Regions from separate parts of the Homo sapiens genome. Here all the other regions are reported to be linked to region 1. The links are microRNA targets in miRTarBase. Many come from high-throughput screens and were not tested one by one. Region 1 holds a microRNA gene; each other region holds the end of a gene's coding sequence.

Region 1 (3,888 bases):
GGGTCTGAGCTGGGAGAGGCAGGACTCCAGGTTTTATTCTGAGTGAGATGGGGGATTTGGAAGGGTTGTGAGCAGGGGGGATGCGTGGTCTGTGTTGGAAAGATCACTCTGACCACAAGGGCATTGATAGAGAATCTACCCAGGGCAGTGATGGGGAACCTACCAGGAGCCTGGCGTGCCTGAGCTGGGCAGTTTCTCTAGGGGCACCTGCAGTGGCAAAAGGGGGCCCCCTCTGGACCTCCCTAGTTCAGTGGGCCCTGCGGGAGCCTGGCTGGCACCTTGATGTGCTTGATGGATAACTCAGTGTGCTCTGTTGAGAAGTCCAAGGCCCTGTTCAGAAACCCTGGGGTCTACACACTGCGGAGTGCTCCTGGCGTGTGACAAGTGGCTTCCCTCTTCTTATTTCTAAACCTTGTGCGTGTGGATTCAGGACCACAATTTCAACTCCAGGGAAGGGGGACTGTGCCAGCACCACTCCAAGGGAGGTGAGTGAAGGGTTGCCCAAACTCCAGTGTGTTCCTAGGACACCCGTAAGCTGCCTCACTAATGCTCGGTGTCCACTCTGTCCACAGGATGGTGGTTGGCAGCCACTCCCCTTGGAGAAGTGGAAGGGGACTCCTTGTCTGTCTTGTCTCTGCTTTTCTGTGGTACTTGAAGAGAAGTTGTTCGTGGTGGATTCGCTTTACTTATGACGAATCATTCACGGACAACACTTTTTTCAGTACCAAATGCTACCTCTAAGGACTTCCTGGACACAATGGCAGCTTCAGGAAAGATAGTCTTTGTGTCAACCATGTGGAAAAGCCAAGAATGGATGGCGGGCCATGGACAATGCGCTGACCTAGCTGTAAGTCACCTGGCCCGATAATCCGAGCCTCCCATGCACCTATAGGAGGTCTTCCCATGGGTCTCACCAACTCTGGGGAATCAGCTGTGGTTCTGTCACCAGCGTCACCTCACAAGACTTTGAAGAGAGGCTCCCTGGGCCCCAGGCCGACTTCCAGAAGAGATGTTGGTGTCAGCACCGTCCAGGGTGTGTGACTGGTTGACCAGAGGGGCATGCACTGTGTTCACCCTGTGGGCCACCTAGTCACCAACCCTCAGCATCACTCCCACTCCAGGAAGACTTTCCAGAGCTCCCACCAACTCTGGGGAAGCGGCCATGGACTTGCTGTGACTGCTTGGTGGACTGCGATGACACGTGCTCTTGGGGGTGTATGTTTACTTAAAATGCAATGAGTCAGCCTTGGCAGCCCCTTCACCACTGTGACAGCCTCCTTGAAGTGTTGACTTCCGATGTGGGACGCCATGTTGTCTTCTGTTGAGGGACCTGATGTGGGCCAGCTTTTCTCCTGGGTGTGTGACTGAATCCTTCTTCCCAGAGCATGTGCTGCCTTTGTTAGGTCTGTCACGTCGTCCTCTAATACCCAGCATCCTGTCTCTCCCTAGGAGGCTCCATGGAGATAATGCGGCTTTGGGAAGCGGCCATGATTCTCCTGTCAGGGACCAGTGAGCTACGCAAAAGCTCCCTGTCTTGTCTGGAAGGACGAACTGCATCCTTGCTGCTGGGGAGAAGGCAGTGCCCTCAGCACTCCCTTAAGGTAAGTGCGCCTCGGGTGAGCATGCACTTAATGTGGGTGTATGTCACTCGGCTCGGCCCACTACCCAATACTATCCCACCCATTCCTAACAGGACTCCCGAGAAGGGCGGCCACCTCTGCCAGAGAGGCAATGGATTTCTCACCAGTGTTCATGTGTGGTACTTGGAGAGAGGCTGGCCGTGATGAATTCGATTCATCAAAGCGAGTCATACACGGCTCTCCTCTCTTTTAGTGTCAAATTCTGCCTCGGAGGGCTTCCTGAGCCAGTGCTGCTTCCAAGGTAGGTTTCTGGATGGCTGACCCCATGGCAAGCATTTTCCTGAGGATGCATGTAACTGACCTACTAACTTTAGAGTCCAAGCTGACCCTAAAACAACTTCCTGGGGCACTACCAACTTTAGGAAAATCGAGAGAGGTTGTTGGGATGCCCTAATTTTTTAAAAGTTAAGATTGAAATACACATGGCTGACTTCTTTTTTTATTCCTATCAAATTCAACCTTGGAGTTGAATCTTGGGCATCTAGAAGCATCTTTTATTAGTCAGCCGTCGGGATACAGAAGAAAACAGGAACAGGACTCTGTGCGACCCCTGGTTTACTAACCCACAGCAGCCTTACACCCTCCAGAGAATTCCTGTAAGGGAATCCCAGGTTTACCAAGGAGGCAGTGCTTAGCCTGCTTTTGCACACACATTTGTGTGTGGTTTGCTTCATATTTAATGACTCCTGTGCCACTGACATCCTTGCATTATTAAATGTTGCCTGCATGGCCAGCTGAGCACAAGAAGTGGTATTTCTGTGCACACTAATCCTGGCTTGGTGAACCTGGGGTTGGCCGGAGAGCATGGGTTTGAGCCACCTGGTCCACTCATCCTCAGGGTCCCATCCACCCTCAGAGGCCACTCCCAAGCTGCCCAGGCTGTGCAGAAGATGCAGGAATGCTGCGAGCAGTGCCACCTCATGGTACTCGGAGGGAGGTTGTCCGTGGTGAGTTCGCATTATTTAATGATGCCCAATACACGGTCGACCTCTTTTCGGTATCAGATCTCACCAGGTGTCTTCTTGGACCTGATGCCGATTTAGGGGACACCATACTCATGTTGGTTCCACACCAGTGCAACTGAACATGTGTGTGGCCCTGGAACCAATGGGTAGGTGCTGCTAGCACTCCTAATCCTCAGCCAGTGCATTCCTGGGGAAGAAGCATGTGATCTGTGCTCAAGACCCCTCTGTGACTGAGGAAGTGGTGGTGCCCATGATGCTTCTGGGGTTTTGTGTTTTTTTTTAAAGAAAAACAATGTATAGTTCTCTTCTCTTTCACTATTAAATCTTACCATGGAGGAAGGACTTCTTAGACATGTTGACAAATTCAGGGAAGGGGCGTTGATTTCAGCATTCTTGGGGACTCACTGGAAGGGTGACTCACCACATCTGTTGATCTGGAGGCCACAGCAAATTTAAGAACAGAAGACAGTTGCATTTTCAATTTCTTGTTTTTCTTTTCAAAAAGGATAATTATTCTACCTTATTACCATATTTATGAAAATGACACATGCTTAATAAAATTCAAGCGATGTGGAAAAATCTAAATGAAAAAGAAGGAAAATTGCCCAATTCTCTGGCACCCAGAAATAACCATTAAGGGCTTTAGAAATTTCATACACCTGTCTGAGCATACATGCAAATAGAAAAACAAGACAGACGCAGGGAAAATATGAGATCACACTGTACCTAATCATTTTATTAAAAATGCTAACTATAATTTTCCTTGAATTTATCATAAAAAACAAGCTAAAGGAGATTGAAATGATTGATAAATGTTTCTCGCTTTACCACCACAGGTAGCAACTCCTAAAAGATCCCTGTAAAATTAAGAAAAATTAGAGTGTAAAAATTAAGTGGTTAGGATTGTTATGGTTTTTAACTATTTCAATTTCACTCCTAGTTCAGAAAGATAAAGAAGTCAGCATTCTTATTCTTCCTTTGCTTACTATCTCCTGCTTTTTCTCAATTATACATTTTAATTTTACATTATAAATATCTGCAATTTGTTCTAGAACTATAATTCTTGCAGGTGTTTTGCCATAGTTCTATATTTAAATGAATTCATTTCTGACCACAAGGTTTGTTTTTTTTTAACTGAGGTTTCTCCGTTCTTTAGTTTTTAAGTTTAATTTATCTCTCAATGGAAATGATCTTATTGTTTCTGTGAGAATAGCTCATAGACACTACCCTTGAGTTCCTGTGCATTTGAGAGTATATATCTCTTTATGCACAAGGGACAGCTT
Region 2 (3,888 bases), not on the chromosome of region 1:
TTGTGGAATGAAAACATGAACTCCTGAAAAGGGGCAAATGGCCAGGTGCGGTGGCTCACACCTGGAATCCCAGCACTTTGGGAGGCTGAGGTGGGTGGATCACCTGAGGTCAGGAGTTCGAGACCAGCCTGGCCAACATGGCAAAACCCCATCTCTACAAAAAGTACAAAAATTAGCTGGGCATGGTGGTGGGCGCCTGTAATTCCAGCTACTCAGGAGGCTGAGGCACAAGAATGGCTTGAACCTGGGAGGCGGAGGTTGCAGTGAGCCAAGACGGAAAAGAAACAACCTTAGAATACTCATAGAACTTTAAATTGTAATGAGATATAATTGTTGATGGCTAAACACACACACAAAAATTATATATACTTTTTAGAAGCTTTAGTGGCTGGGCACAGTGGCTCACACCTGTAATCTCGGCACTTTAGGAGGCCAAGGTGGGAAGATCTTCTGAGGTCAGGAGTTCGAGAGCAACCTGGCCAACATGGCAAAACTCCATCTCTACTAAAAATGCAAAAAAATTAGCTGCACGTGGTGGCATGCGCCTGTAGTCCCGGCTACTCGAGAGGCTGAGGCAGGAGAATCGCTTGAACCTAGGAGGCCGAGGTTGCAGTGAGCTGAGATCGTGCCATTGCACTCCAGCCTGGGCAACAAGAGTGAAACTCCATCTCAAAAAATAAATAAATAAATAAATATGGACAAAGTTGTATACTATGTCATTGCTTATTGTATCAAAACAGATCAGAACAACCCAACCTTCCATTGGCGGGGGAATGATTTAAATAATTGTGCTAGATGGAATCTCATGTAGTCATTTTTTAAATAAAGAGAGTTAGCTTTACATTTATGGACATTGAACTATATCCAGGATATGTCGTTAAGTAAAAAAGCAAGTTGAGGCTGGCCGCGGTGGCTCACGCTTGTAATCCCAGCACTTCGGGAGACCAAGGCGGGTCAGGAGTTCGAGAACAGCCTGGCCAACATGGTGAAACCCCATCTCTACTAATACAAAAATTAGCTGGGTGTGGTGGCACACACCTGTAATTGCAGCTACTCAGCAGGCTGAGGCAGGAGAATCGCTTGAACCCGGGAGGCAGAGGTTGCAGTGAGCTGAGATTGCACCACTGCACTCCAGCCTGGGCAACAGAGCAAAACTTCGTCTCAAAAAGAAAAAAAAAAAAAAAAAAAGAAGCTGAGGAACAGTATGCTTAGTATGCTAAAATTTTTTGTTTAAAATATTTGTTGACATGTACACAGAAAAACATCTGAAAGAAAGCACCTCAACTGTTGATGAGACTCTCTGAGCACTGAGATAGAAGGGGCTGCCCCTGGCCGGGCGCGGTGGCTCATGCCTATAATCCCAACACTCTGGGAGGCCGAAGCTGTGGAGCCCTTGAGTTTGGGAGTTCAAGACCAGCCTGGCCAACATGGTGAAACCCTGTCTCCACCAAAAAATACAAAAATTAGCCGGGCATGGTGGCGGGCGCTTGTAATCCCAGCCACTCAGGAGGCTGAGGCAGGAGAATCGCTTGAACCGGGGAGACAGAGGTGGCAGTGAGCCGAGATCATACCACTGCACTCCGGCCTGGGTGACAGACTGAGACTCCATCTTAAAAAAAAAAAAAATAAAGCTCGGGGGGAGGGTTGCCCCTTTTCTTTTCTGACTAGGTAATATGTGAGCAAAGAATTCAAACAAGACCAAAAAGCTGCCAGGGAAAAGTAGATTCTACCTCTCTCTTGACCCACAGACGCCTCTGGGGAGAAAGGAAATCTCCGTTTTACTTTATACATGTCTGTAATGTTAGTACTTTTTATTTTTTTAACAAAGATCATTGCTTTTTATTATACTTTATCAAATTCAATCTAGTAACAAAAGTAAAAAAGAATGTTCACTGTAGAAAATTTGCAAACTATACAAAAGTTTCAGAAGAAAATAAATATCACCTACAATCTCATCTTCCAGAGGAAAAAACCATTTAGTGCCTTTCCCTTGAATCTGTTTTTATACACATACATCCTTTTTAAAAAGTTCATAGACCAGGCGTGGTGGCTCATGCCTGTCATCCCAGCACTTTGGGAGGCCGAGGCAGGTGGATCACGAGGTCAGGAGATCGAGACCATCCTGGCTAACATGGTGAAACCCTGTCTCTATTAAATATACAAAAAAATTAGCCAAGCGTGGTGGAGGGCACCTGTAGTCCCAGCTACTCGGGAGGCTGAGGCAGGAGAAGGGCGTGAACCCGGGAGGCAGAGCTTGCAGTGAGCCGAGATCGCACCACTGCACTCCAGCCTGGGGGACAGAGGGAGATTCTGTCTCAAAAAAAAAAAAAAAAATTTGTTTAGCCAATCTTTTATCAGCAAACATGTAGGTTGTTTGCTATTTCAGAAAAATGTTTTGCACGTGAAAGAAAGAATAGCCCTTATGAGGCACACAGGGTCCAGGACAGCAGAGCAAAAGTCCCTGCAGGCAACCCTTCCTGACCCCATCCTACAGGGTCTCTGCCCAGGCCTTCCTGGGCCCCTCCGGGAGCACTGCCAGGGGCCTGGGCCAACTGGCCTGGAAGCCTTGCCTTTTCCCTGTGGAGGCGCAGAGGCTCTGGTTTGTCTGTCCTGGCCCCGGGATCATTTTCCAGCACACAGCACAGTCTAGTCCATCCACTCTCCCCACTCCCCAAATTCAAGGTCATCAGGGTTCTGGTGGCCTGGAGATGGGTACAACATTCTCATACTCAGGTTCCTCCTGCCTTTCCTCTTCAGCCTGCTTCTGGGGATCCTGTTCTGGGGAGCCACAGCCAGAGACTGGCTCCTGGGCTCTCCTTGAACTCTCGGTGCCAGCCCCCAGCCCCCGGACCGCTTCCTCTGGTCTGACTGCCATAGGCCCTGTGGCCCCAGGAAGCCCAGCTTTTGGGGCTGAGTTGGGGCTCTGGCCGACAGAGCCAGAGGCAAGGCCAGGGCTGCCCTTTTTCCGATTCAGGGCCTGGCGCGGAGGCTTAGGGATGGCCCTCTTGACCTTGGCTTCCGCCTGGCCTTTCTGGAAGCTACCAAAATGGCGGAAGACAGAGCGGACAGGGCCTTCGGATCCGCGGGGCTTCCCTGCCAGCATGTAGATCGTGGTCACAGGGCCCGAGCTCTCCTGGACGCTGCCCTCAATGGCTTCCACGTGCTCAGCCACTGTCCGGCCACCAAGTGGGGGCCGCCGGTGGCCAGTGGCTGAATCCCCGGGACTGGCAGCCGCCGGAAAGGACTCGGGGGCTTCTGCTTCCTCTGGGCCTGTGGACTCTTCGGCTTCCCGGCCCTCAGGACCCGACTGCGCCCCCCGGGAGAGCCTCTTGGGCTTTCGGAGCGGGCTGGAGAGCTCCCCTGAGCTTCGGCGACTCTGTGGTGCAAACTTGGTACCTTCCGCGAAGGAGACCGATGGCCGCTTGGCCCGAGCTAGGCTGGAGGTGCGCGGGATGGCGAATGGCGTGGAGGCGTCCTCAGGGGGCGGGAAAGCACCTGCAGCCAGGCTGGCCTCTGACGACCCTGCCTGGGCCACAGGGACCATCCCTGGCAGAGGAGACAGAAGAGCTTGGCTGGAGCTGAACTGGCCACCCCAATGCATCCTACCCACAGCTCAGCATCTTCCAGGAGGCCTCAAAAATAGGGCAAGGAAGAGGGCAAGGATGAGGAGAGTGGCAGAAGGACCAATTCAGGTAGACACTGTTACTTCTACACTTTTTTTTTTTTTAATTGTAGAGATGGGGTCTCACTATGTTGGCCAGGCTGGTATCAAACCCCTGGCCTCAAGCAGTCCTCCCGCCTCAGCCTCCCAAAGTGCTGGGATCACAGGTGTGAGTCACCACACCTGGTCTCTATACTCTTTTCTCACCACCTCTCCCTACTTTGAAA
Region 3 (3,851 bases), not on the chromosome of region 1:
TAAATTTAAATTCACAAAAAACTGTACATTATCAAAAAGTCACTAAAACACCACATTTGGTTATATAAAAAGTCCCTTTTGCTGTAAAAGGAACACAGAAACTTGTTGGTGTTGATGGTGTGGTTTCTTCCTGTCAACCAGACTGATGGGAGGGAAGCAAAAGGGCAGGGGGTGGGTTGTCTTTTTATTTTAAACCTGCTTTCCCTACCAAATACTCTTGTCATGAAGAGAAAATCCACCTAGCTCAAGGGGGCAGTGAAGATGAGGAAAGAAAAGCAAGAAATGGCCCCTTTGATCATGCCCTATCCCTACCACCCCCAACCCCGCTCCAGCCCCCACTTCTTCAAACTGAGGCTAGGACCCCACCCCGCCATATGAGTGCCTGGTCCCTAGGGAAAGAGATGGAGCTGGGAGAGGAACACAAAGCAGGAACCATGGAGATTTCACTCCCCCATCCACCTCACAATTTCACTCCCCCATCCACCTCACAATGAAATTAATCTAGCACATCTTATACCAGGGGAAAATTGCCAGGGGGAAAAAGCAGAGCCCCCAACTCTAACAGTTTCAACTGTCTAACACAAAGTTTGTTACAGCGCAGTTATTTAGATAAAATATAAATATTTATGCATAATATAAAGTCAATTCAAATATTCTTCAATCCACCTCTTAAAAGCAAAAAAAAATCTCAAATAAAATTAAAAGTTTTGAGGTTTATCTGACAGAAAAGGCGACTTTAGAAATAGGCTATGAGGGAGAAGGGGCATAAAGGAATAAAGGGGCTGCCCCAGGACCTACACTGCCCCTACCCCCTTCAGTGGCTCTTCAGTGCTGCCAGAATACAAGGAATGCTCCACCTCACCTGGCACCCCCACCCCCCAATGGAACATTTCTTGGATGCCTCAGCTCTCTGCTTGGGCCAGCCAGCAGCCACCTCCCCAGTGCAAGTACCCGTAATCTCTGAAGGGAGGGGCTCTGCTGAGCAGGAAAAGCAGGGGGCCAAGTGCCCATGGCTATAGCTGGGAGTCAGCAGCTTTCCTCTCGTGTTGGGGGCTTAACTTGGACATAGTCACATGTAGGGCAGTGATGGACCCAGAACCCCTCCTCCCTACTCTCCTGTGCTCCAGGGTCTCTGCTGCTGGGGAAGGGGTCCTGGGGTATGAAGTAAATGAAGAAAAGCACAACTAAATGGGATTAGGAAATGATCCAGTTCTACCACTCTCCCGTAGAAGCTTAAGATTCAAAGCTACCGAGAAGAGAGGGAGTTCCTGCTGAAAGATTGCACAGTCTGAAGAGGCTGGAACAAAAATGACCAGGAGAGAGACACAGCCTTGTCTCCAGAGAAATTGTTCCTGTGGTTTCCCAAAGACAAAAAAGTGATGGTTTTAAACAATGGGAAAAATGGGAATGAAAACAGGTACTTGGGGAAACTGAATGGATCCTATCAAACAATACAGGGTCACAAGCACGCACACACACACACACACACAGCGCGCGCTCTGAGGCTGACACACACACACACACACACAGCGCGCTCTGAGGCCGACACACACACACACACACACACACACACACACACACAGCGCTCTCTCTGAGGCCGGCCCCATTGCTACCTGGCCTCCATCTTAGGGTGCACCCAAACTCAGCAGTAGTTGTCCCTGAGGAGTTCCCAAGAGGGTTTGGGAAGGAGGTGGGGAAGGAGGCTGGAAGGCCCAGGAAGCCTCCCTGCCCTCTCCCCAGCTACTGAGTTTCAGAAAAGGCTGGAAACTCAGCATGTGAGGAGCATCCAACATCATACAGGGGATAGCTATCGGCAGGAAGATGGGGACAGAAGACAGGGACCTCTGAACATTTTTTTTTCCTTTGAAGGGAAAAGATTTGGGAGAAGAGAAAAGGAGGGAGGAACCCGTACACGATAGTTTTACATTATTGGATGAGAGAAAATCTGAAAACTGGGGGGTGGGAGGTGGGAAAAGAAAGACAGCGAGAAGCAGGGAAGGGACTGAACATGGAAGCAGCATGTCCAGGGCCCGGTGTCCGGCGCGACACACTTGGGAGTTAAGTCCACTTTACTGGCCGTCACTGCGGGTCCGCACACAGTACAGAGTGTTTCTTGGTTTCACACATTCACTAGAACTATTGCTATTGTTAAATAACCCCAGAATGCTGGGGCACGTACAGGGGAGGAGAGGAAGCAGGGAGGAGGAAGTAGGGACGACTTTCCCCCTCCCCATTTTTAATTAGCAAATAAAACAGAAAAGAAAAATTATTTTTTTCTTTCTTTTTTTGGCTTTTAGTCCAGAAGGACCTCATCTCTGCACCTCTTACTTGAGGAGCAAGAGGAGGGAAGGGAGAAAGGGATGTAGGAATAAGAGGATGTGGGGCACTGCCAAGGGCAAGGTCAAAAATCAGGGTTGTATCTGACTTGAGTCTGGACCCAGGGCAGCATCAGCAGGTGAAAATGGCAGGTTTTTGTTTGGAAGGTGGGGGGAGATGCCACAAGGTGACTCCCCACCTCCCTTGCCTCACAGATTGGCCTGTTTTCCCTGATAAAACTCCTCCCAGCGGCTCTCGAAGAAGCGGCGCATGATGTGCCCAGCCTTGCCTACTTCAGAGTCATCCTCGTTGAAAGTCTGGCAGTTGTCAAATACCAGGAGGGCATCAGCCGCAAACTCCTCTGAGCTGGTGTACCTGGACAGGGCAGGGGCAAAACTGTGAGCTGGGTAGGAGTTGCAGCAGTAGCAAAGACCGGGCGGTTCACCCACATCTACTTACCCTCCCCTGAGCAGCCGCTCCCGCATGGTGGAAAAATCCATAGGATTTTTGATGATGCGCCGGTACCCACTCACCAAACGTGGGTTCACAGGCTCTAGGAAAGGCCAGGCTGCATCATGGGACTCCATCTCCATCAGGATAATCCTATCATTAGAGGGACAATGATGGCTCCATCTCAGGAAGCAAATATACTGACCCCTCCCAGCCCTTTCCTCTGGCAGAGGTAGAGCCAACTGTCCCCCCAGGATTCACTCAACTCACTCGCAAAATGTGAGATCACTGTGGTGGTTCCGCATAGAGAGTCGCCGCCGCTTGGAGGGGGAGAGCCCTTCTTCCGAGTACCGAGGCCCTGCTGCTGGGCTTTCTCGGCCCCTCAACAGTACCCGGCGTCGGCGGCCATCACCCTCTGAGAAGTTCAGCGAATAACCACTTTTCCGCTTCTGGCCACGCTTTGGGAAACCAGGCTTCTGAGTGAATTCTCCCTCCACCTGCTTAGTATAGGAAACAGGTGAGATTAGCAACAGCTGGAGATGCACTGCTTGCCCTACTACAATCTCTGCCTAAATATGATTTAAGGCTTCAAAATACTATCATGCATAAGCCGGCATTGGTTTATTCACATAACCCAATGAAGTAGGTAAAAGGGAAGGTATAGTTATTCTCATTTTATAGAGACAGCAATTAAAGCTATAGAATTTAAGTGACTTGTCCAAAAAAGGACTTAGAACCCAGGTCCCCTAATACCCAGTCTAGGACTCTTTCCAAGGAGAGGAGAGATTGAGGATAATCTCTGATTTCTGTTTGAGTGTGGGAAAGAAAGAGCAGAAGCCTTACCTGAGCCAAACAGACAGTACAGAACCAATCTCCTTCTGGGACAGCCTCCATCTTGGGACGATGGCAGTAAATGTGGCAGCCACGGTCACACCCATCACAAAGCAGAAGAAACTCATCATTGTCACCCTTCCGGCAGACTAGACATGTCTGGACCAAGGTTGTGAGGAGGCAGAATGAGCTCTCCAGCCTCTACCTGCCAGTGACCCCACCCCGCCCCTGCTGGCTGGCCCCTCAGCCTCTCC
Region 4 (3,888 bases), not on the chromosome of region 1:
GTACTCACTCAGTACAAATAGCAAAATAGTATACCATTTCCTAAATACAAAATATAGCTTTCCAAAAAAATGAAACACACATTAGATATAAACCATCCAAAACTTGAACGATTGAAAACTGTATTCAAAATTAAATGACCCAGAGTAGGTCTCTTTCTGAAAAGTTCCCTTCATATCGGCAAGAAGCCTGTACTACTGAAAACGTAATTCAATGCCTCTCAATCAGAGAGAGAAAGAAAGAAAGGGGTGGAGGTGGAGGGAAGAAAACATGAGAAAAAAGAGAAAAAGACAAAAGAGCACATTCAAAGAACAAAGGAAGATCATCACAAAACAAAAAGAAGGAAAAATCTGGCTGTGTAAACAAAACCAACACCACAATTCCGCACAGTTCAACTAAATGTACAGGATAGAAAAAAAAAAAAAAAAAGAACAGAAAAGTAGCCTTCAACAATTAACAGGTTATTTTTTGTACACTTAAAAAATAAATGAAACGGACAAGGATACCAAAACATTATCTCAACACATAGAAGCCACACACACGTTGGCCTTACACTGCATTGACAGCTTTCCACATGCCAAAAGGAAAATGAGACATAAGCATGTGTCCAGACACAGGTGGTAGTGAGAAGCAGGCATCCCACGGGTGGCAAGAACACCCAAAACTGTATAACTAATGCTACAACTGCCAAGTTCTGGAGTGTGTTATTTTGCTCTTTATAGATGTAACACAAGTTAATTCTTCATTTTAAGTCAATGATACAACCCTGTAAAGCCTAAGGCTTGTGGGAACCATCAGGTAAGTGACCACTTCAAACTGTAAAGCACTGAGGTGACAAGTGAATTTATACTCACTGCAGATCAGGGAGAAGTGATATTTCAAGAAATTTTAGTTTGCCTTTTTTTTTTAATTAAAATTTATACTGTTTCCTATTAGAGGGAAAAATTTGAAGACTTCAGAACAGCACCGTTCATGGGGAAAAATGTGTTGTTTCTCAGGAATCAACTCCTAATAATTCCTAAGACAGTACTCTCTGCCCTGTGCTGCAGGATTGCTAGGTCACCCTAGATTAAAGTGGCCAAAGATGCTACAGGGTCATGAAGCCAGTAGTATATTAATAGTTCTCTAAAGTAAAGTGAAAAAGAGGTGAAAAGTAATATAGATATATATAAAAAGGGAATACCAGCCTAAGACTGGGTTAAGAAGAAAACATTCAAATTTTTCTGTCAATTTAAACTACTGTAGGAGGATATCAGAACATAATTTATCATATATTATCCCCTTCATTTTTTACAGATAATTATTTTTCTATGCACAGTTATGGCTAAACCCCTTAGTAGAAACCCAGAGAACTAACAACTCTCTGAAAAAATAAAATCAAGAAGCATTCCAGCTGTTCCCAGTTTTATAAGTGTATCATCTGCCTTTGTGTTAAATCAAGAGTACTTTTATCTGCACATACAGTTTACTTGTTAGAATGTTACCCTTCAGTTTCTCCAATAAAACTGAAAAAAGATTCCTTCACTTTGGCCAACAGCTGTGCCTTTTATATTGAAAAAAATCACAGCCTTAGTTATTATTGAACTTTACTTTTTCAAAAGCCATTACTTGACTAAAACAATGCAGGAAAGAAAATAATGAAGAACAAAAGTAAACATGATATATTATTTTCTAATAGCAATAATAACTGAGTGGTCCAGCCTTGAATTTAAACTGTACGTTTAAGGAAATTGCGCCTAGGAAAATAATAACAATTAATTCTGCCAGCTGGAAACTCAAATAGATTCTCAGTCATCACTGTTATTAGGAATATAAAATATGAAGATGTTAACATTGGTGGTTAGTTACTGCAACAAGCAGCATAGGTGTGCTCTTTTGCAGTCAGAGTAAAATCTATCAGTTTACTCAAACACAGTTTTTTATATTTTGTTTTGTTTTTAAAGTAATAATTCTCATGGAACCACAAGATCTCAGGACATCTTGGAATCAGGATTTTCTTCGTGGAATTTCTAAAAAAGAGAAAAAGTTTAATTTAACTTACTAGGGAGGGAAGCATTTATAAAGTTTCTGACACCCTGAATGATCCTAAAGTATATTATGGTACTGTAAGTAAAACTTTATCATATTTGATCTTCCACAGACTTTTCTGACTCAATATTTATTTCTGGAGGAAGGGATAAGTGAGGCATGGTTATATCCAATATATAGTACAAAGGAAACACATTTTGCATACTCATCAGATGTTTTGTTATTCCAAGGCAAAGAAGCTCAGAGGCAGAAGGAATGTCCAATATAGGTTGAGTATCCCTTATCTAAAATGTTTGGGATCAGAAGTGTTTCTGATTTCTTTTTTGGATTTTGGAATATGCACATATACACAATGAGATATCTTGGGGATAAGACACAAGTCCAAACATGAAATTCACTTCTGTTTCACATACACCTAAAAAAATCTATCACAGCTGAAGGGAGCTGGAAGGATCTTTTTTACCCTTGGGGACACCAAATAAACTGCATGTTGTGAGCCTGACTTTTGACTATGACCCTATCATATGAGGTTAGGTGTGGAATTTTCCACTTGAGATGTCATGTCAGCACTCAAAAAGATTCGGATTTCAGAGCATTTTGGATTTTGGATTTTTGGACTAGGGATGTTTGGTCTGTATTTTTTTTTTTTTTTGTATTTTTTAGTAGAGACGGGGTTTCACCATGTTAGCCAGGATGGTCTCGATCGCCTGACCTCGTGATCCGCCCACCTTGGTCTCTCAAAGTGCTGGGATTACAGGCATGAGCCACCACGCCCGGCCTGGTCTGTATTAACTATATGACCATAAGCTATCATTCAGAATAATTTTATTCAGAGTAAAAAAGTATCATCTTGTGAGAAAGCCACATTTTAAAAGATTAGAACTACTATTACTTAACCTAAATCTGTTAAGAAGAATAAAATCTGATGCTTTTCAATAAGAAGCCAAAATGCAATACTTACATATCCAGTTAAAAGGAGCCAGTCAAGTTGTTCCCTTGGTTTTGCAATGAAACAAGCAAATCAATCTTTTCGATGTTCTGGTTGGTGTTTATAGAGGATGCCAGTGGAGAATTCTCTGGCATTTGCTGAGAAAGAAGTGTTGTCACAGGTGGCTGGCCCTCGTTTTGTGGTTGGCCTGGCTGACTTATGGCCATCAACTGATCAGGCAATGTAGCTGGTCCAGAGGTTAAAAGCTGACTACAGTCTGCAGAGACATTGAAAACAGAAGCTTAAAAGCTGACTACAGTCTGCAGAAACATTAAAAATAGAAGCTATCTGATTAGTAAAGATTCATGAAAAGATATTTATTAGTTGTTGGGGAAAATTCATTACTGCATTCTCCTTGTATATTACTAAAAGTTAGGCACCTGATAGTCCAAGAAAAAGGTTTTCACAGACTGGCACTGGAATTCATCTTAGGTTTCCTTTAAGCAGTCTAAAAATACAACTTTGCTTAAATATCAAAAGTCCTATATAAATTCCTTGGTATATAAACATTAAAGATGAGTTTCTACCTCCTTAGAAACTACTTACTTCAACTGGGTAAGGTATTATCTGTCATTCTGACTTCATTTTCCTTTTAAGTTTATAGCTTAAAATGGCAAACACACATTTTTATACATTGCCATATTTAATCCTCCCCAAATCCATGTAAAGTATGTAATATTATCACCATTTTAAATGAGAGAATTGAGACCCATAAAAGCCAAATAACTTGTACAAGATCTTATAGTCTATAGGTGATAGAGTTCTAACTACAATCTGTACTCTTAAAACAACTATACAGGACAGGTGTGGTGGCTCACGCCTGTAATCCCAGCACTTTGGGAGGCCGAGGCCAGCGGATCACTTGAGGTCAAAA
Region 5 (3,888 bases), not on the chromosome of region 1:
TCGAGCTGAGGTGCCGCCGCTCTTCTGGAAGCCGTACATCTATGCGGGCTACCGGCCGCTGCATCAGACCTGGCGCTTCTATTTCCGCACGCTGTTCCAGCAGCACAACGAGGCCGTGAATGTCTGGACCCACCTGCTGGCGGCCCTGGTACTGCTGCTGCGGCTGGCCCTCTTTGTGGAGACCGTGGACTTCTGGGGAGACCCACACGCCCTGCCCCTCTTCATCATTGTCCTTGCCTCTTTCACCTACCTCTCCTTCAGTGCCTTGGCTCACCTCCTGCAGGCCAAGTCTGAGTTCTGGCATTACAGCTTCTTCTTCCTGGACTATGTGGGGGTGGCCGTGTACCAGTTTGGCAGTGCCTTGGCACACTTCTACTATGCTATCGAGCCCGCCTGGCATGCCCAGGTGCAGGCTGTTTTTCTGCCCATGGCTGCCTTTCTCGCCTGGCTTTCCTGCATTGGCTCCTGCTATAACAAGTACATCCAGAAACCAGGCCTGCTGGGCCGCACATGCCAGGAGGTGCCCTCCGTCCTGGCCTACGCACTGGACATTAGTCCTGTGGTGCATCGTATCTTCGTGTCCTCCGACCCCACCACGGATGATCCAGCTCTTCTCTACCACAAGTGCCAGGTGGTCTTCTTTCTGCTGGCTGCTGCCTTCTTCTCTACCTTCATGCCCGAGCGCTGGTTCCCTGGCAGCTGCCATGTCTTCGGGCAGGGCCACCAACTTTTCCACATCTTCTTGGTGCTGTGCACGCTGGCTCAGCTGGAGGCTGTGGCACTGGACTATGAGGCCCGACGGCCCATCTATGAGCCTCTGCACACGCACTGGCCTCACAACTTTTCTGGCCTCTTCCTGCTCACGGTGGGCAGCAGCATCCTCACTGCATTCCTCCTGAGCCAGCTGGTACAGCGCAAACTTGATCAGAAGACCAAGTGAAGGGGGATGGCATCTGGTAGGGAGGGAGGTATAGTTGGGGGACAGGGGTCTGGGTTTGGCTCCAGGTGGGAACAAGGCCTGGTAAAGTTGTTTGTGTCTGGCCCACAGTGACTCTCTGTGCACGACTCAACTGCCAAGGGCATCACTGGCCAATTCTTGGATTTAGGGATTGGCTAGGAGTTGCTGGGGTCCACTCCTGGGCCTGCCCCAGCTCCTTGCCCAGGGAGAGGGAAAGAGTTAACGGTGTGGGCCACTCCAGCTTGCCCTTCCACTGCCACTCACTGGGGTGAGGCTGGGGGTCAGCTTGGTGAGGATTGGGGCTTCTAGATTGTCTAGGCAGGAGGTGAAACTTAGGCCAGAGTCAGATTTGAGCTGAGCCAGGGGAGGCCTTGGCAACCTACTTCTACTCAGATTTCATTGCTGGATGCGGAAGGGGTAGGCCCAAAATATATACAGGATCTTACTGTCCCTTGAAGCCCAGCCACAAGTGTTGGAGCTGCAGAGAGACCCCAAAGGTAGTAGATTGTGCCAGATACAAATGGGTCCCATCCAGTGCTTCATACTCCTTCAGTCACTATCCCAGACAGTGAGCCCCAGATCTCCTAGCTCTGGCTTCTGTGTCCCACACGGCCTGTTCCCAGCTTCTCTCCTGGTTCCCTTGTTACGGATTCATTTATCCATTCAGTGTTTCCTGGGCCTCTGCTCAGAGGCAGGTCACCACTGGGCCCTGTGGATCAATGCAAGATGACAAAGGCTTTTTTTTTTTTTTTTTTTTTTTTTTTTTTTGAGGAGTTTCGCTCTTGTTGGCTAGGCTGGAGTAAAATGGTGCGATCTCGGCTCACTGCACCTCCGCCTCCCAGGTTCAAGCGATTTTCCTGCCTCAGCCTCCCGAGTAGCTGGGGTTACAGGCATGCACCACCATGCCTGGCTAATTTTCTGTATTTTTAGTAGAGACGGGGTTTCTCCATGTTGGTCAGGCTGGTCTTGAACTCCTGACCTCAGGTGATCTGCCCGTCTCGGCCTCCCAAAGTGCTGGGATTACCGGCATGAGCCACTGCGCCTGGCCGACAAAGGCTTTGATATCAGAATGAACTGTCAAGGGAGGTGCTGGAGAGGGATTAACCTGTGCTGCCTGGGACCCTCAGGGTCTTAGGTTGGGGAGTGTGAATAGGAGTTTGCAGATGGAGAATAGGAAGGGCATTCCAGGCAGAGGGAAACCTGTGCAGAGACCAAGAGGTGTGGAAGGAAAAGTGGGGTTGGGGCTGGGTGGTCTGGATTATGGCCTGGATGCAATAAAGTACTGTGACAGTAGCCACCTCTTTGTTTTTTGTCTCCTGTTTCCGGGAGGGGCCCCTGCTCACATTACTGGAGGTTTTCCGGAGGAAGCTGGGGCCCCTGGGAGTGGACACAGGGTGCAGGGAGCAGTTCTTGTTTTATCTTTGCTGGGGGATGGGGTTGGGGCCTTATATACCATATCTATATATACAAAATTTGTTTGGCAAGGGAGTGGGCGGCAGTTTTATTACTAAAGTTTTATAAGTAGTTAAAATAATGTGTTTAAAATATGATAATCCCACTTTATGATCTGACAAAGACTTTTTTTGTTTGGTTTTTCCTTCAATTAAGGAGGGTTTTTTTGTTTTGTTTTTAGTGGAGGGGGCAGGGGCGTGCACACTCCACCACACATATTGAGCCTCGTCGCATGCGCACCGAAGAAGTATGTTAACTTTTATAATATTGCTTTTTCCATAGTACACAGCAATATATATACAATGAAGGAAAATTGGGAAGATAAGAAAACCCAAATTAATTAGAAATATCACTTCACTGCTGAAATATCATGGGGGACCTTATGAAATACACACACACACACACACACACACACACACACACACACACATAAAATATGTGTATATAAATAAATATTTTGATATAGGCCAGGCATGGTGACTCACGCTTGTAATCCCAGCACTTTGGGAGGCTGAGGCAGGCATATCACCTGAGGGCAGGAAGTTGAGACCAGTCTGGCCAACATGGCGAAAACCCATCTCTACTAAAAATACAAAAATTAGCCAGGCGTGGTGGCACACACCTGTAGTCCCAGCTACTTGGGAGGCTGAGGTGGCAGGATCGCTTGAGCCCAAGAGGTTGAGGCTGCAGTGAGCTGAGACTGTGCCACTGTACCCGAGCCTGGGTGACAAAGCGAGATGGCTCTGTCCACCATGAAGACAGGCTCTGGCTGCAGAGATGGTTGAGGTTCCTGGCTGACCTGCTGCAGACTGGGCAAGAGGTGGCTGAGCTTCTATCCTCCCTCCACCAAAAAAAAAAAATTACAAAATTTTTGGCCGGGCGCGGTGGCTCATGCCTGTAATCCCAGCACTTTGGGAGGCTGAGGCAGGCGTATCACGAGGTCAGGAGTTCGAGACCAGCCTGGCCAATGGTGAAACCCCGTCTCTACTAAAAATACAAAAATTAGCTGGGTGTGGTGGCGTGCGCCTGTACTTCCAGCTACTAGGGAGGCTGAGACAGAAGAACCGCTTGAACCCAGGAGGCGGGGCTGCAGTGAGCCGAGATAGCGCCACTGCACTCCAGCCTGGGCGACAGTGAGACTCCGTCTCAAAAAAAAATTTTTTTTACATATACAATATGTAAACATTACGTATAATGTACATATATTCCATCTATGGAGATTGTGGTTAGGGACGGAAGGATGGGTGGGGGTGCCAACATTTTTGCATTTCCAAGGGGTTTTCTGAATTCACAAAGTACTTTCACAACCTCATTTGATCCTCTTTAAAATCCAAGGCACAGTAAACGGTGAAAGCAGGACTGAAATCTAGTTCCTGACCCCAAATTTTAACCTCTTCAAAATCCTCTCCCATGTGGCTTCGTAGTTACGCTTACATTAAAAAAAAAAAATTACCAAAGTTGTTCGCACACTCGAGTGT

Evidence for each region. Region 1 holds the annotated microRNA hsa-miR-485-5p (AGAGGCUGGCCGUGAUGAAUUC, at 1,770-1,791, shown strand). A microRNA usually pairs through its seed, bases 2 to 8, with sites in the 3' UTR of a target mRNA and lowers its output. Matches are read on the target gene's strand: a 7mer-m8 pairs with bases 2 to 8, a 7mer-A1 pairs with bases 2 to 7 and ends in A, and an 8mer does both.
Region 2: miRTarBase lists SCARF1 as a target of hsa-miR-485-5p. Seed matches in the 3' UTR shown: 7mer-m8 at 2,213-2,219.
Region 3: miRTarBase lists BAZ2A as a target of hsa-miR-485-5p. Seed matches in the 3' UTR shown: 7mer-m8 at 1,700-1,706, 8mer at 1,501-1,508, 7mer-m8 at 1,294-1,300 and 7mer-A1 at 350-356.
Region 4: miRTarBase lists NFAT5 as a target of hsa-miR-485-5p. The part of its 3' UTR that is shown has no 7-base or 8-base seed match.
Region 5: the mRNA of PAQR7 is a reported target of hsa-miR-485-5p. Seed matches in the 3' UTR shown: 7mer-m8 at 1,822-1,828.

The regions. Positions count from the first base shown.
Region 1 is chr14:101,053,658-101,057,545 of GRCh38, forward strand. MIR485 (microRNA 485) reads left to right here and starts at 1,762; the gene lies at 1,762-1,834. MIR382 (microRNA 382) reads left to right here and starts at 649; the gene lies at 649-724. It overlaps MIR134 (microRNA 134), which reads left to right and starts at 1,030; the gene lies at 1,030-1,102. It overlaps MIR668 (microRNA 668), which reads left to right and starts at 1,601; the gene lies at 1,601-1,666. It also overlaps MIR323B.
Region 2 is chr17:1,632,072-1,635,959 of GRCh38, forward strand. It overlaps SCARF1 (scavenger receptor class F member 1), which reads right to left. Exons shown (of 11, transcript NM_003693.4): 11 at 1,787-3,546. The coding sequence ends at 2,687. Among named protein-coding and RNA genes, the nearest start is that of SLC43A2, 5.2 kb to the left of the region's middle.
Region 3 is chr12:56,596,093-56,599,943 of GRCh38, forward strand. BAZ2A (bromodomain adjacent to zinc finger domain 2A) reads right to left here. Exons shown (of 29, transcript NM_001300905.2): 26 at 3,610-3,756; 27 at 3,037-3,266; 28 at 2,776-2,919; 29 at 1-2,691. The coding sequence ends at 2,526. It overlaps RBMS2 (RNA binding motif single stranded interacting protein 2), which reads left to right. Exons shown (of 14, transcript NM_002898.4): 14 at 1-101. Among named protein-coding and RNA genes, the nearest start is that of BAZ2A, 32 kb to the right of the region's middle.
Region 4 is chr16:69,694,479-69,698,366 of GRCh38, reverse strand. It overlaps NFAT5 (nuclear factor of activated T cells 5), which reads right to left. Exons shown (of 15, transcript NM_138713.4): 14 at 2,988-3,231; 15 at 1-2,007. The coding sequence ends at 2,996. Among named protein-coding and RNA genes, the nearest start is that of SNORD13H, 12 kb to the left of the region's middle.
Region 5 is chr1:25,859,851-25,863,738 of GRCh38, reverse strand. It overlaps PAQR7 (progestin and adipoQ receptor family member 7), which reads left to right. Exons shown (of 3, transcript NM_178422.6): 3 at 1-2,255. The coding sequence ends at 940. Among named protein-coding and RNA genes, the nearest start is that of AUNIP, 2.3 kb to the right of the region's middle. RefSeq lists enhancers at 322-1,091, 3,376-3,888, 3,875-3,888 and a silencer at 3,465-3,524.